Regions from separate parts of the Homo sapiens genome. Here region 1 is linked to region 2. The links come from fine-mapping of genetic effects on gene expression. A gene starts in region 2. The other region holds a variant in brackets. All regions are shown on one strand. Distances are between the middles of the regions.

What was found. PIP is the estimated chance that this variant, and not a neighbour inherited with it, causes the effect.
Region 1: its variant is fine-mapped to the expression of HAPSTR1 in whole blood (INTERVAL, PIP above 0.99).

What each region holds. Positions count from the first base shown.
Region 1 is chr16:9,112,825-9,120,924 of GRCh38, reverse strand. It overlaps HAPSTR1 (HUWE1 associated protein modifying stress responses), which reads right to left. Exons shown (of 4, transcript NM_014117.3): 4 at 1-4,257. The coding sequence ends at 4,013. Among named protein-coding and RNA genes, the nearest start is that of HAPSTR1, 25 kb to the right of the region's middle. RefSeq lists a silencer at 5,319-5,613. The variant C/G (reference allele first, on the strand shown) is at 3,487.
Region 2 is chr16:9,087,825-9,095,925 of GRCh38, reverse strand. It overlaps HAPSTR1 (HUWE1 associated protein modifying stress responses), which reads right to left and starts at 4,282. Exons shown (of 4, transcript NM_014117.3): 1 at 3,656-4,282; 2 at 2,925-3,005. The coding sequence starts at 3,881. RefSeq lists enhancers at 2,813-2,982, 5,252-6,117 and silencers at 3,133-3,632, 3,843-4,182, 4,353-4,422, 5,211-5,341.

The DNA.
Region 1 (8,100 bases), 25 kb before region 2:
GCTTATCTGTACAAGGGAATACTATTCTGTCACAAGATTTCACCATATTTGAAACCCCGTATCTAACAAAAATACAAAAAATAGCCAGGTGTGGTGGCAGGCACCTGTAATACCAGCTACTCGGGAGGCTGAGGCATGAAAATTGCTTGAACCCAGGAGGCAGAGGTTGTGGTGAGCCAAGATCGTGCCACTGCACTCCAGCCTGGGTGAGAGAGTGAAACTCCATCACAAAAAAAAAAAAAAAAAAAAAAGATTTCACCATATTACTTCTAATGTATAAAAGACCTGTATATACTATAAGCTGCTGTGTGGCTTGATTTTTGCTGTTTTAAATCTTTTTTTTAAGCACTAAATAAAAAAAAAATGAGGGGCCATCGAAAACTTGACTTGCTACGTCACAGGCTACTGTCTAACTGAACTTCACAAGGAGCCTGCAGATCCCATTATAGGAAGTAAAACCCTGGATATCTCATCCCATCAAACCCAACAGCACAACACACGGTCTGACAGCCAGCCTGGGTGCTCGGGCCTGCTCGTCTCTCAAATGCTGCCCCCACTAAAACATCACACACCTCAAATATTCCAAAGGGAGGCTAGAAGCTGGCCTTATGGGGTAAGGTCATCTAAACCATCAAAGCCGACAACTTTCCAGAAGGGGTAGCAGGTACCATAAACACTTATAACTTTAAACAAGGGGTTGCTCTGGAAGAACCTTTCTAGTCACTTTATTCCACAAATCCAGAATGTATCTCTGAAGATTCCCATCCTCACCATGACTAAATACCTCAGTCACCAATCTAATGAATGAAGCACCAGGTTACAACATACTACATAAAGTAAAATGCAATGAGATTAATCTGCTGACGTAGTCACCACTAGAGGTAGTAGCCAGGCCAAAAACTCAATCATTCTGTTCATAATTTTCTAAACTTATGGCCCCATTTCAAAATCATCTCTTGGCGTCTTGCACTGGCCTCTGAGGCTGACTAGCCCTCTGGGTTGGATGTTGGCCATCCCTCTCACTATAAAGGAAGTTAGCCAGTTTTCACTGTTGAATGGAAATCTTCAGGCCCAAAGCCACAATTATTCGAGTTTAATGAGTTCCAGTAGCCCTTAGAAAAAAACATTTAGAAAGCTAATTCTTTTTTAAAAGCCTAAACTTCATTTGATTGCATCAAAAAGTTATTCAGATGTGATGACCAAAACAAAACTGCAGACAAGCCCCATGGTTTTTTTGTTTTTATTCATTTTATGATTAAGGTGTTTATCACTACTCCAGTTGGGTAAACCACATTGAAGAATCTGACTGCAGGTCTTTAGATTCAGCCAAATGCTTTCCAACAATTTTGCTCTAAAAAATATTAAACATTTTAATACTTCAGCCATGCTCAGAACGCTGCAGTCTAAGGATGAACTTCAACTTGCCCATGCCAAGTTAGGGCGACAGGAGCAGAACTAAGGAGCTATGACGTCTAAAAGAATCAGAGAATCTGGCTTAAGACGAAGAGAGCTTCTGTTCCCCAAAACTAAACTGTCTAGTTTTTAAATCCACCCTTAACCGTTCAAGAAACTGAAAAAGTCAACTTGTTTTTAAAATACCACACAGGTATGCAATCTTCCATGATTTGTTTTGCATCTCAGCTAGCACAGGGAAACCCTTGAAAAACCTAGCTGTCAGAAGTTTTTCCTGAGGGAAATCATTACGCTTCTACTGCTGAGCTTCATGTTTATTCTGTGCGTCGGGGAAAGGAGAAAGCAATGGGACAGAGAAGGGAAAAGTTGCGACTGGGTGACAAATTCATTAGGTGCATTTGAAAGTAAACGCAATGGAAAAAAGTAACAAATGCTAAAGTTTTCTAAAAGTTTAATGAAGCCAATAAGGCATATAAATTGTGTTCTGGCAGACATTAAGACCTGCTTTCTCTTACCAAAGAAAATGGCACGTTTTATCAAAATTTGACAATTCAGAGTAAAGGGTACTGAGATTAAGCTTCAGAGCACCAACTTAAACAAAACAACCAAAAAATTGTTATCCAACGTGGAAAGAGGAGCAAGAACCAAGGCATAAAGGGGAATTAAATATGTGTTCCTCCATCTCAAAATCCTTTTAGGAATAGGAGTTCTGGCCACTTGTGAGCAACACATTGCACCACCAAACCCCAATTCCAGAATCTAAATTTACGATAGAAAAACAAAGGTAACTCCAAACGCATGTCTTGTATATTCCAAAGGGAAGCTTGAAAGTATTCATAATACATAGGCTTGTCTGTTTCAGGTAAAATGACAGATTGCTATAATTCTTCCTGCTATTATAGTCAAACAAAAAATGACCCACTTTCGCAAAAGTTTAGAAATCTCTCACTTTCATTCCTAGTTTTAGTATGGAATTCACTTTTTTAAATAAGGGCTACATCTATAATGAATACAGAACTTCAATTCACACAACATTTCTAACATTCCATTCACATCCCACCCAGTCAATGAATGAACATTTATGGTTAACTCAGCAAAGTTTCTTCACAGAAAGATATTATTAAATGGCTGAAGAAATTGCAAACTTTAACAAAGTGCTGTGAGTAATTACTGGAAAAACCCTTACACTGATTTGCAATGGTCTTTTAAGGATAAAAATAGGAAGTAACTGATACTGGACTACAAGTTTGCAAGGAAACATTTTTCACTGTCCTACTTGATATATAATATAATAATATGATAGAATAAATTACAGTACCTGGCAGGCTGACATCAGTTCTTCATCTAAAAAAACACTATCATTCAGTTCAGGATATTAAAAATGAAGATGAAACATGCTCTAAAACATTGTAGCTACAAGAGGTCTTATATTTACTCAAAAGAGGAATCTATTGAGAACTTTTTATTTAGGTCTACCTAACAGCTAGAGAATCTCCATGCGATTCCATCTTTTCCAGAATGAGATTCCAAACTGAACTTTTTAGGAGAGGGATTGGAGGGACAGGGAGAGTTGGGTTTTGCTATTTTAAGTTGCAATCACATTATTAGTAGATAAAAAAGAGAGCTTTATCATCTTCCACCCATTCCAATGGAAACTGCACTAAGCAGGGACTCCATGAAAAATGTAAAATGATAGACTAGAAAACCTACCCCACCATCCATCTCCCTCTCCCTCTCACTAATACTGAACCAAAAAGGAAGCCCATTCTCAAAGTTCATGACCTCTCTACTTTAGGTCACCTCGAATGCAGTCTACATGTTTACATTTACCATAAGGAAAGTACCCCGCATGGGAAGTAGTGTTTGTCTTAAAACTGAGTACTTTAGGCCTACAGGGTTACTCTGGGGACAGTTTAATAATAATACTGCTACTTTAGAGCACTAACACACACAAAGTGAATCCAATAAAGCTCTGGGCATTGATTCAATATTTAGTATTAATTGCATGACCATCATAGCACCTCTTTACATCACACAATCACCAGAATTAGAAATTGATTTGAAAACTAAAAA[C/G]AGGGCACAGTCCAATAATTAGAATTGCACACTGTTACTATATAGAAACCAGGTGCATGGTACAGTGCAGCTGCAAAAATGGAAGCCAAATCATGTTTTTAGACAATTTTAGGAACCTGGCAATACTGTTGAAGCAAAATACTCAACACAGCAGGAAATGGACCCAAAAAAAAAAAAAGCATTCTATAACCAAATAAACATCTGATATTTCCTTTCCCTTTGAGAATAAATACAGTTAAGGTCACTTTTAGCCTTGGAACGGATATATGTTTGCCTATGATGATCTTGCTAACGACTACACAATATCTGATGTCCTCTGCTAGGATTATAGTTTTAAGAAAGCCATAATTACAAGAGGCATCTACTATAAATACCTAGAACTTCCTTTTATGGCAACCACTATAGAATTCACTTGTCTTAAACAGTGAACAAGGGAAGATGGCCTCATGTTTCCTTTGCAATTATAGTATATGTTGAGGATCAAGTGGCTTTCAAGCAGCATGGTGGGTGTGAAAATGTTTGCAGTTTAGATCATTCTGTTGCGTTTATGGGTTGGTGAGTCTGTAATGACATCGCCACACTGGGCTGAGGTACGCTTTCTAGTTCCACCATTGTCCAAGTGGAGTGCCATTTCTTCTGATATGAAAGTGTTCAAATCGACATCATGGAGTCCATTTCTCCTTCGACTAGCATTCGATCCACTGCTTACATGTGTAGGAGAGCCTGGGGTACTCGAACGCACGCTTATACTAGCCATTGCACCACTAAGACCTAGGAAGAAGAAAAAAGGTTTTAGAGTTGCTCAATTATGTAACCCTTTTGAAAGCAACCCACTTACTTTCCATGTTGTCACAATGTCAAAGCATGTCTGCCTATTTCCTTTATAAGGGATTACTAGTAAGCAATTAAGTTTTATTCTGGATAAACATATCATCTGGCCTTGACATATATTTTATTGGTAATACTACCAATATCTACAATATTGGTAACTACCAATTACTAAAAGTTACTACGTGTCAACCACCGTGCTAGGTGTACAAATATCTCATTAAATTCTCCCATCTATGAGGTAGGTACTGCACAAAATTTACAGATAAGGACAGGAGACATTTGCTTTAAAGACAAGACATTTTTGGTTACCCAAAGTTACCATTCCAACAGACCCCTCTGATGAGTGTGTATGTGTGTGATGTATTCAGGAGAGCCAGAAATCACTTCCAGGCCTAGGTGGGCTTGTTCCAACATCCCCTCTAGATAAGGTGATCACATAACTTGCCATCCAAAACAGATTACTGTTGAGCCCGAAAAGAGTCACTGTTAAAATTTCTACTGGGACATGAGGTACAAAGTCAGTCTACCCTGGACAAATCAGGCTATGTGATCACCTAAGGTCTGGAATGTATTTGGTAGATATCCTTCAGGACAGCCTCAATCATGAGCCTCTCTAATCCTTCATGGAAGTGGGGAGGGGAGAGGGTTGTGAAGAATCCTGCTGCTTTGTTTTCAACATTAAGAGTTACTGAATCCAAGGCCAGGCGCAGTGGCTCACACCTGTAATCCCAGCACTTTGGGAGGCCGGGCAGATCTCTTCAGGTCAGGAGTTCATGACCAGCCTGGCCAACATGGTGAAAACTCGTCTCTACTAAAAAATACAAAAATTAGCCCGGCGTGGTGGCAGGCGCCTGTAATCCCAGCTACTCGGGAGGCTAAGGAGGAGAATCGCTTGAACCCGGGAGGCGGTGGTTGCAAAGAACCGAGACTGCACTCCATCCTGGGTGACAAGAGCGAAACTCCGTCTCAAAAACAAAAGAGTTACTTTACTGAATCCAGAATATACCCAGCACTCATGGATACTTATTCCTTTCCTTAAACTCTTACACAGTTAAAGAGCCAAACTTACATTCCACTCCTAAACATTCAGGATAAACCTGTGAAAGGTATGAGTCAGGCCAGGAAACACCAAACACAGTGTTGCATTTTTAAAAACCTACCGTCACTGGCAGTGATCTTCTGCCTTAGGAATTTCCCCTTCCACTATTCTCTCCTCACCTAGGGATCTGTTATTGCTTGACTATCAATTAATTTTCAAAGAATAGGACTTATAAGATTTTCAAGTAAGCTTAGAGGTTTCATTTGACAGGGGCCCATTCTTTCTAATCATGAACTCCCTAAAAATGTAGTTTAAATTTGAATTTTAAGTTGAAAAGTCTCTGCCTCCTATCACAAATCTATTACATTCCCCTTGGCGTTCCCCTCCATCAAATATTCTCTGAAATGTTCTCAAATCCATGGCCTCCACTATCATCGCACATGCTGACAATGTCCTGAGGGCCACACCTCCCTTCTGAGGTGCTCAACTCCGCACTCTAGGTGCCCCCATTCCTTTCTGCACTGATCCAACCAATCCCCCTGGCTGCTCTCCCTGCAGAAGACACATCCTCCCCTCCTGCTGGTGGTCAGAGGAAATCAAACTGTCCCTCTTCAGCCTCTCAACCTTTCCAAGGCTAGCACCTATTAAAAAATAGAAGCATTAACATGAGAATACTTCCTGTGTCAGGTACTATGTCAATTACTTCCTATGACACCTATAATATCTCCATTCTGCAGGTGAAAACCCAAGTTTAAAAGTTAATTCATCCAAGGTCAACAGGTAGTAAACAAGAGCTGGCACTCCCACCCAAGTGTAATCTATATTCCTATTCAGTTATTCTGATCCTCTTCCAAGCCTAGAGTATTTTAGCAAAAAGGTGGCTTCAGGTTGGTCCTAGGGCCAGCCTGCCTCTTAGGCCTCATCTCTTTGAACAGTTTCTCTCTCTTCCCTTCCTGCTCTCTTCACTTCACCCTTAGACCGTATCCCGACTACCAACATCATGCAATTTGCAGCTCTCTGAAATAGTGAGGCCTGCAACTATCTGTCTCTTCCAACATTTGCAAATGTCTGTCTCTCCCAACATTCACTCCCTGAGTGAGCCCACCTGTTCCCCAGCACCTCCCTTATGAGGCTCCTTCCCTGGTTCTCCTACCTCTCCATTTTAGTTTCCTGCTGGCTCCTCTTTCCCCCTCCTTGAAATTGAAACTCTCCGCTCACTCCTCAGTCGCCTTGGTGGGGTTCCCTTCTGCCCCTGAAAGGCTGGTGTCACCCTGGGTGATATCCTCAACCCCTACCTTACCCACACACGTTTCCCAAAACTAGACTAATGAGCTCAACGGCCCTCCCAGATTTCTAACTGCCTACTGGACATCTCAAACTCAACACCATCAAAAAGGAACTTCACTTCCTCTTCCCCAACCGGCACAAGCTTACTTTTAAAAAACAAAATAAACCAAAAAAAAATCTTGAGCTATCTTTCTACAGCATGGTACAATCAACCGTCTCTTCCTATAGAAAATATCTTTTCATCTCCATCTAATGACCTAAGCACAGTGCCTGGCACTTACGAATTCTGAAAAAGAATAATACTTCAAAGTCCTACCCCCTCATGTTGAAATCCACTGAAATCAAAGGTTCAACTGTTGATGTTTATTCACCTCTCCAACACCAGAAAATAAACCCAGGTGTTCTCTTCACTTAAATCATTGCCATCAAGTTTAAAACTCAATTATCCCCATTGTTGGCTTTTTTTTAAAGTTCTACCGCAAGACTAAACTTGAGGGGAGAGATGTGCCTTCTTTCATCCTAGTGTCTCAGCCTGTAACATATTACAAGGTGCCCATGTTCTTCAAAGATAACCTTTCGTACTTGTTTCATAATCCAAAAGGTAATTATTATGGCAAAATATGGGCACGTTCAGCAATAAACTGGGCTACTTCAATAATTAAAATCAAGATCCCCTTTATCATTTCAAATTATAAAAAGAATTCAACAAACCCCACCCTAATGCCCTTGTTAACATAGGAGTCTCATGGCAGCACGTTTAATACCTAACAACAAATATGGAAGGCTCAAAACACTGTATCAGAAGTGGACTAGGGATTTCAAGCAAATGTTCCTTATTGTTTCAGCTGCCATTCTCCATGAAAAAGAAGATGTGTTAAACATCAATTTGGTCAATCTGAAAATTCTAACAGCTTCTGGGAAATCATCTTTTTCTACTGGGTGTATGACCTGGGTGTTTATCTTGATAACTTTAATGTGCAATATGATCTATGACTGACTCTCATAGCAGTGAAAATATTTTCAAAGTCTGCCTACCTAATCTTCCCCAAAAAGACTTTTCACAAGGGTCAAAAATAATTAAGATTAACAACCAAAAAATGTGCATTTTGACAGCCCAAATTTTATTTTACAAACCAATGACAGCTACTAGAAGATGCTTTAGGAAACCTTAGCTAAGCCACATAAACAATCAGACCTATACAAGTACAGAAAAATCTAAACATGCTTCAGAACTAAAAAAAAAACAAAAAAAAACAAAAAAAACAAAAAAAAAAAACCAAGTTGTACGTCCTGAGGGCATACAACTTAATTTCTACAAAAACATACTTTTTCAAAAGGGCTATGAGAGTATCAATTGACAAAAGCAGAACAAGTAGCATGATTAGACAGAGAAGTCTTAATTGCTTAACACAAGATAAACTCAGCAGTTTTAAAGTGTCTGTATCCATTTTAAATGA
Region 2 (8,101 bases):
AAACACCATCCTCTTTGCATTTATCAAATCAAAAACCAGCAGTCAGTATTTTGGCTTCCTTCCTTTTTTGGAAAGGGGAAGACAAGTCTGACCCTACTATTTACAGTAGAGGTAACCACCCACTCCATTTTATTGAATTCTGTCCTTGCTGAAGTTCAACTTACATTTACATTATCTTCCAAATCCTTCTAGCCACATTCCAACCAAACCAATTAACTCAATTTTCAACTTTTCAAAAGCCCTCTGACAACTAAAAGCGACCCTCTGCTGGGTTTTTAATCTCAATCCTGACCTTCTTAATGAAGGTCAGGATTGAGATAAACACCTAATGAACTTCTTGGTAGTTATCAAGAAGCTGGTAGGAGTGCCAAATTGTCCCCAGGCTGCACAATAAGCCATTTTTACCTTGTCAGATATTATACAAAATACAGGAATGCTGCCTGCTGCCCACTTAGAAGTATCCACCAAATTTTTCCCCCCTTAAATTATATTTAAATATTTAATCAGAACTATAACCAATATCATTTAAATTTAGTACTACTTACTGCTGCATGCACTTGTGACACCACCTTGCTAATTTTATTGGTTCTATTTAAGGTAACCAATTATTCCTACAGCTGTATGCCTGTTCTCTAAAGACCACACCCTGAAAAAGAAAAAGTGTGAGGCTATCCAGAGTATTATCCACACACTCCTTGAATCAAATAAGAAAACGTTGCACTATCAAATTCCACAAGACACAACTTACCATTTCTATTAGGCAAGGGATGTGTTTTCACTGTACAGAAACAAGGTACAAAATAAAACTAGTTCAGACTAACAATCTAGCATTTACAATAATCCAAGAATCATATGTGATGTTTTCTAAAAATAAAATTAATGTTCCTCCTTAAGTTTTCTGAGCAGGAAAACAAACAAATTGTAAACATTTTTAAATGAAGTAATCAAATTAAGGATTATTTCAGAGTTCAACTGCTGAACCCATCTTCTTACACGAAAAGTTAGCACTAACGAAAACTGCTAGGTTAGTCCTAAAGGGACACATTCTACAAGAACCCAACAGGACCAAAGCCAGAGGACAATCCCATTTTATACGGCCTAGGCTAAGAACCTGGCACATAAAAACACTAAAAATGTGTTGCCTTCCCCTTCAAGCACAAAGCAATACCAACAAAAGCAAAAGAATAAACCATGGTACTGCCACACCATAGAGTAATACTAGCCAATCAAAAGGCACTGAACTATGCACACCTGCAATGCGAACTCGATGGGTGAACCTTATCATAGTAACTGGAACAAGCCAGACACAATAGGCTACAAGGACTGCACCATTCTATTTAGGACATGATGGAGGAGAAAAAACAGCAATCAAATCAGTGACTGCCAGGGACTGGGAGGTGGGGGTGATAGATATATTCTACTTCTTAAAAAAAAAAAATCAAAGTATATATCCTAAAACAGTGATTTTACTGTATGTAAATTACACTCCCAGAAACCTTTTTTTTAATTAAGTATTATTTCAAAATTCTGTTTTTGGACAAAACCAAGAGCCATTCCAAAACGTTCAAGACCGTCAGCACTGATAGATGTTGAAGCAATTTACTCAGTCACAATTTAACAAACAGCTATATAAAATCAAAGCTAACCACTGAGGCACTATTTAACCATGTTTCCCTTTTTTCAGTAAGACTGGACTATTATTATTACAGTTCCTCATTCCCTAAAGTTAGCGTTTCTTTTCACCACTTTGTTACCAGTTCTCAAATTACTGTCCCAAAAAACTGTAGTCTACTCAAGAAATCTCACAAGGAGATATTTTTTCCTACAAGATGCTGCGGCCATTTGCACATTCTTATGCAAAAATTAACAACTTGACAGTCAAGCAGCACCTTCATAGCCCGTTTCAACCTATATATGGCCTAAATATATATGGCAAAAATACCAATATTGGTATTTTTGAAATGCACAAAGTTCCATTACTGTTCTGAGCAACTTTTAAAAGTCTGAAAACATTTAATTACATATTTCTTAAGATTAACAAAGTCAAATCCTTTTTCCATAAAAATCTTGCCAAAAAAAAAAATCAACCCCAAATTTCTCAATCTTCAAAACCAGTAAGGCACAAAATCTAAACCCACCGTTACCAAGAATGCACAAATGGGCAAGAACGTTTACTTACACATCTTCATGTCATCACAAAGGGAGGGGGATTAACTCCAGAAAGGAACCACCATAAAACAAACCTATGGACTCAAAACTCTCAACAGAATTCCTGCCAGCAACTTATAATCAAATATAGGATCCTTTTAACAGAAAACACTTGATCAAATTGCTAGAGAAGAGCAGCACGTTAACATGCGCGCAGATGACTCCGATTAGCAAGCTTTCAAGCACTTCAAAACTATATAGACTGCCACGCTTTCAAATGCCTAACTCAAGAATCTTTTCCATAAAGTTCGTCCCACTTCCGACTGTAGTACAAAAAACATCAACTCTTATCTTCCCTCAATGTCTTTTCCAGAGGGAGGCAAGGCTCAGCCGTCTTCCAGCTCAACGCTTCTCAACCTGAGCACTACTGACTTTAGGGGCATGATAATTCTTCGCTGAGAGGGGGCCGGGGCGGTTATCTTGGGCACTGCAGGACCTTCAGCAGCCTCTATACACTGGGTGCCCAACAACAGCCCCTTCTAGGAGAAGCCAACCAAAAACGTCCCCAGGCGTTGCCATCTGTCCCGGGGGGCGGAGGGAGGTGTCAAAATCGCCTCCGGTGGATCTAGCTAGAGCACCGCCGCGATTCTCAAGTTGCAAGGTATTCAAGGTTAGCAGCTGGGCTGGGGAGCAGAAAACACACTTGGAACGCAGGGCAGACACCCTGACGCAGGCGGCCCTTCCCTGAATCGGCAATGCAGCAAGGTTATCTTTACCTTTGTAGAGATTGGTGACGGCGGTGGCTGCGTTTTGGAAGGGGACCCAGAGAGAAAGTCCTGGCTGCTGACACACTCGGTCTGAAAAGCAAGCCAAAAAAAAAAAAAACCAAAAAGAAAAAAGAAACACACATAGAAAGAGAAAGAAAGAGAACAAGAATGTTATTTGCGCGTCAATCACTCCGGAACGGCCATATTAGGTTTCGCCATTTTGTTCAGGGGTTTCGGGATCCCAAACCCAGTGTGAGGACCGGGGGGGCAGGGAGGTCGCGGCGGGGAAAAGGGGATGCCGCAGAGCTCAGGGGCACAGATCAGGGACGAGCCGCGGCGCAGGGAAGCGCCCCCCCTGGCAGTCCCCGCCCCGAGGCCGGCTCAGGGCACAATGGGGCCGCCCCGCCGTCTCCCTTCGCCATTTTGTGACGGGGGCTCCTCCTCTCCCGTCTCCGGGCCGAGGGGGACACCGGGTGGCCGGGCCCGGAGAGCGGGGACCCTCGGACCACCCCAAAGCGGGGCTACCCCCACGCCGGCTCTGGCCTGTCCCCCCAACCCCGGGCCTCCCTCCCGCGGCGCCATCTTGCGGGGAGGGGGCGGCAGGGCCGCGGAGCCACCGGCCGGGATCCCCGAGGCCGCCGCCGTCGCGGCCCCCCGAAGCGGCCGCTGAGCCGATAGGGCCGGGGCCGGGCCCGGGCGGGGGCGGCCAAGCGGTACCAAGATGGCGGCGGCGGCCTCACCTTTGTAGAGCTGGGCCACGGCGGTGGCCGAGTTCTGGAAGAGGTGCCACAGCTTCTGCTGCTTGTGCTCGGGCTGCGCGGCGGCCGCCGCCTCCTCCTGCAGCTCGGGGGGCAGCTGCTCGTCCTGTTCGGCCTCGGCCAGGCACTGCCGCTCCCACTTGGAGAACCAGTGCTCGGGCCCGTGCTCCTGGATCTCGGCCTCGCCCTCCTCCTTCCGCTCCTCCATCCTCCGCGGCCTCCCGCGGCCTCGCCGCCACCGCCGCCGCGTCCTCCTCAGGCGGGGCCCCCGCGGGAGCGTCGTCGTCAAGCGGCCCGGCGGCAGGGCCTGGCGACCGACGGCGCCTTCTCCTTTCAGCGGCCCAGGCCTCCTGCACCCCGACGGCCGGCGAGCCCCGCCCCGCGGCCCCGTGCAACCAGGGACGACCCCCGCCCCAGGCCTTCCCACCCCCGGGCCCGGCCGAAGGTCGCCGCGGACCAGATAACCGCTGCCGCCCCTCGCCTCGGCCGCCGCAGCCTGTCTAACGCCCCCCCATGGCGCTGCGGCCTCCCCACTGCCGCCGCCGCCGCTGATCGCCGAGCCCTCCGCGCAGCTCGGCCTGCACCGCGGAGCCCACCCCAAGACTGAGCAACGTCGTCGTCGTCGCCACCGCCGAGGACGGCTCTGCGGCTGCTGGTCCCCGCCCTACCCCGCCCACATGCTGACAGGAGAAGCACCGCCCACTGGGCCCAAGCTACCCTGCCCGGTTGAGGCGTGGCCGCTCCAAGGGCCCCTATTAGTCGGATCCGGCCGGTTCCGCGTGGCGGCTTCTGAGCACAGCGTCGTGATTGGTTCTTCGGCCTGTCTGCCTGACGTAACCAATTGGCTGGGGGAAGGGAGTGAATGTCAGGAAGGATGAAGGAGGAGGAGGGGGAGGAGCTGACAGTGGTTGCGTCCGAGCCAAGGGGGCGGGTGGGGGGTGGAGGGGAAGAGCTAGAAGGGATGCGCATGCGCACTTGCTCGCTGCTCCCCCCCCCGCTCAGGGGCGTTGAGTGGGGATCACGTGACGAGGCCCAGCGACCGCACCCCGCGGGAGCTTTTCCGGCGTGTACAGGCCCTGGGGGGATGCAAAGTCGAGTGCGGCTCCTGTGCCGCGGGCACTGAGAGGTATAGTGGGTGGTAGCGTGCTTACTCCAGCCCCTGGGGCTCCCAAAGGGAGGAGGGTAGTAGAGAAAGTGAATAAAACGCCCAACTCGTGTCCAAGTTTGCAAAGCGCTTTCCTATTCTTTTGAGTACTCCCCCTTTTTTTTTTTTTTTTTTGAGACGGGGTCTTGCTACGTTGTCGAGGTCTAGACTGCTGGCCTCAGGCGATCTTCCAGCCTCCCAGGGCGCTGGGATTACAGGCTTGAGCCACCGCGCCCGGCCCAGAGTCCCATTTCTTAGACGGGCAAATCGACCATCACAGCCAAAGAAAAACTTCCGAGTTGCGAAGTCGGCTCAGTTGCCCCTGCGCCCTGGCGTCCCCCGAGGACGTCGCGCCTTCCGGGTGGACAGGACCTCGGCGGCCGCCCGCGGAGCCAAGGATAACCCGACGGCCGACGGTGCCCGGTGCCCGCACGCGTGCGTCTGCGCCTTTGCGCGCGCGGCGGCCCCCGCACCTGTCCCGAAAAGCACACTCCCAGGCCACGTGCATGCCCCGCGTCACGTACCGGCCCCTGCCTTCCCCGGCCCGAACCCGCGTGGCGGTGCCGAGCGCTGCGCCCGCCCCTACTCCCCCCGCAGTGCGCGATAGCTGGACGCCCCTGCGGCTGCGCGCCCCCCTCCCCTGTCGGGGCTTTCTCCAGGGTCTGAGGCCCCGGAGAAGGCAGCAACGCAGACAGGCGGTGACCGCACAGAGGCAAAACCCACCATCCCCACCTACATGCCCACGGGAGGCACCATCCGGCCTGGAGCGGCGGAGGGCGCCGGCCAGAGGCAGCGTCGCCCGCAGCCTGCGATAGTGCGCTTGCACAGAGCAAGGCGGCTTTGGAAGAAAATCTGACCCCCTCACCGCGGCCTGCAAACCCCTGCAGGATCTGGCCCTGGCGCCTCTCACACAATCCCCTACTTGGCTTGTACCTTGCGCACTCCCCCTCTTCCCCACCTCGCCTGGACGCTCACACACTGGCCTGCCTTATTTCCCTGGGACACTAGGCTCTTTCCTGCCCCAGTCTGCTATCTCTGGAAGCTCTTCCTCCTCCTCTTTCCTCAGATAGCTCCTGTTTAGGAAGCCTACTAGGACAAGCCTAAAGTAGCACCCTTCACACTGTCTCGTATTGCCTGGTTATATTATTTCATAACATCAATCACTATCTAAAATGCTAAATTAGGCCTGGCGCGGTGGCTAAAAAACAGGTTTCCAATTGTAGGGAAGAATATAAAGTGAAAAGCAAACAAAAATCATTCTACCTACCTCATTCTACATCCTCCCAATCCTATTCCCAGGAAATAACTTGTGACCTTTGAAAACGGAGTTATGTGTACGTCGAGTGTGTATGTGTGTGTGTACCTATATACAAGTATGTCCCTTCTTAAGGAAAAAAAAAGATGATTTTATGTGTACTATCCTACAAGCCTTTTTTCCTTAACATAATTTGGATGTCTCCACATTGGGACCTAAAGACTTATTTATTCTTTTAAAATATTGCAAATAATTTCATTGTATGGATTCACTACAAAGTATTTTACAGGGCCCCTATTGATACAAATTTAGATTGTGACCAGTCTTTGGCTATTATAAACAATGCCATAATGAACATCTTGTACATATGTAATACAGTGAACATCCTTGCATATATACATATGTGTATTGAATATATATCCTCAGAAATAGTATTTTAGAGTCACAAGGTATATGAGTTAAATATTTTAGGAGGGTAGGCATGGTAGCTTACACCTATAATCTCAACAATTTAGGAGGCCAAGACGCAAGGATTGCTTGAACTCAAGAGTTCAAGACCAGCCTAGGCGACATAGTGAAACCCAGTCTCTACAAAAAAATACAAAACACAGCCAGGCATGGCGGCACACACGTGTAGTTCCAGCTACTCAGGAGGCTGAGGCGGGAGGATTGCTTGAGCCCAGAAGGCATAGGTTGCAGTGAGCCGAGATAGTGCCACTACACTCCAGCCTGGGTGACAGAGACCCCATCTCAATCAATCAATCAATCAATAAAACTGCCTGCTGAGTGTACGATCAATGGTTGTTGATATGTCAATTTCTACATTTCTGCATTCATGGTAGCACGTGGGAAGTCCAGGCCTGCACATGTAGGTATGACAAAGGAGAGAACACAGCTGGACGATTTCGCTGCCTGCAGGCTCCGCTTCAAAAGCCACACACCACTTTGGACAGTCCAAAGGTTTCGAGTTTTTACAGAATGAAGGCTGCTCTTCTTCTCCTTCATGTAACTCAGACCCTGTTCCAGAAGCCTCTGGCCTTTTCTTGTAAGAACATAATATTTCAGCCATACATACAAGATGGAATGATATTGAATAGCATAAACGCTGGCTCTATAATAAATATTTGTCAGTTGGAAAAAACAGTCTAAAGAAAAAGGAATAAATATTGAAAAGCACCACCTATCTGCTTGATTTCCATGACCCTGAGCTTTGTGTTAACCTCTAAGAGTTTCTTTTTTGTTGTTGTTTCGAGACGAAATCTCGCTCTGTCGCCCAGGCTGGAGTGCAGTGGCGTGATCTCAGCTCACTGCAACTTCTGCCTCCTGGGTACAAGCCATTCTCCTGCCTCAGCCTTCCTAGTAGCTGGGATCAGAGGTGTGCACCAGCATGCCCAGATAATTTTTTGTGTTTTTTGTAGAGATAGTTTTGCAATGTTGCCCAGATTGGTCTCCAATTCTTGGGCTTAAGCAGTTCTCCCACCTCAGCCTCCCAGGTAGCTGGGACTACAGGCACATGCTACCATGCCTGGCTAAATGTATTTTTTGTAAAGATGGGGTTTTGCAGTGTTGCCCAGGCTGGTTTCCAACTCCTGGACTCAAGCAATCCTCCTGCCTCAGCCTCCCAAAGTGCTGGAATTATAGGTGTGAACTACTGCACCCAACCCACCTCGAAAAGTTTCTGAATTCTGAATTGATAGTCTTAGAGCACTTGAGCTATTATACAAATGCTTATTATCTTCTTATTCATGTGTACCTTATAATCAATGCCACTTGGAATGGAGGAATGTCAAATAACAATGCACGATACGTATTATGACCAGCAGTCAGCAAATAGAAGACCTTGTCAATGTGGAGATTCTCTCCAATGCCACCTACTCTTCAGTTTAAAGATGAAACCTCATAAGCCGGGAGCGGTGACTCATGCCTGTAATCCCAGCACTTTTGGGAGGCCAAGGCAGGCAGATCACCTGAGGTCAGGAATTCGAGACCAGCCTGGCCAACATGGAGAAACCCCATCTCTACTAATAAA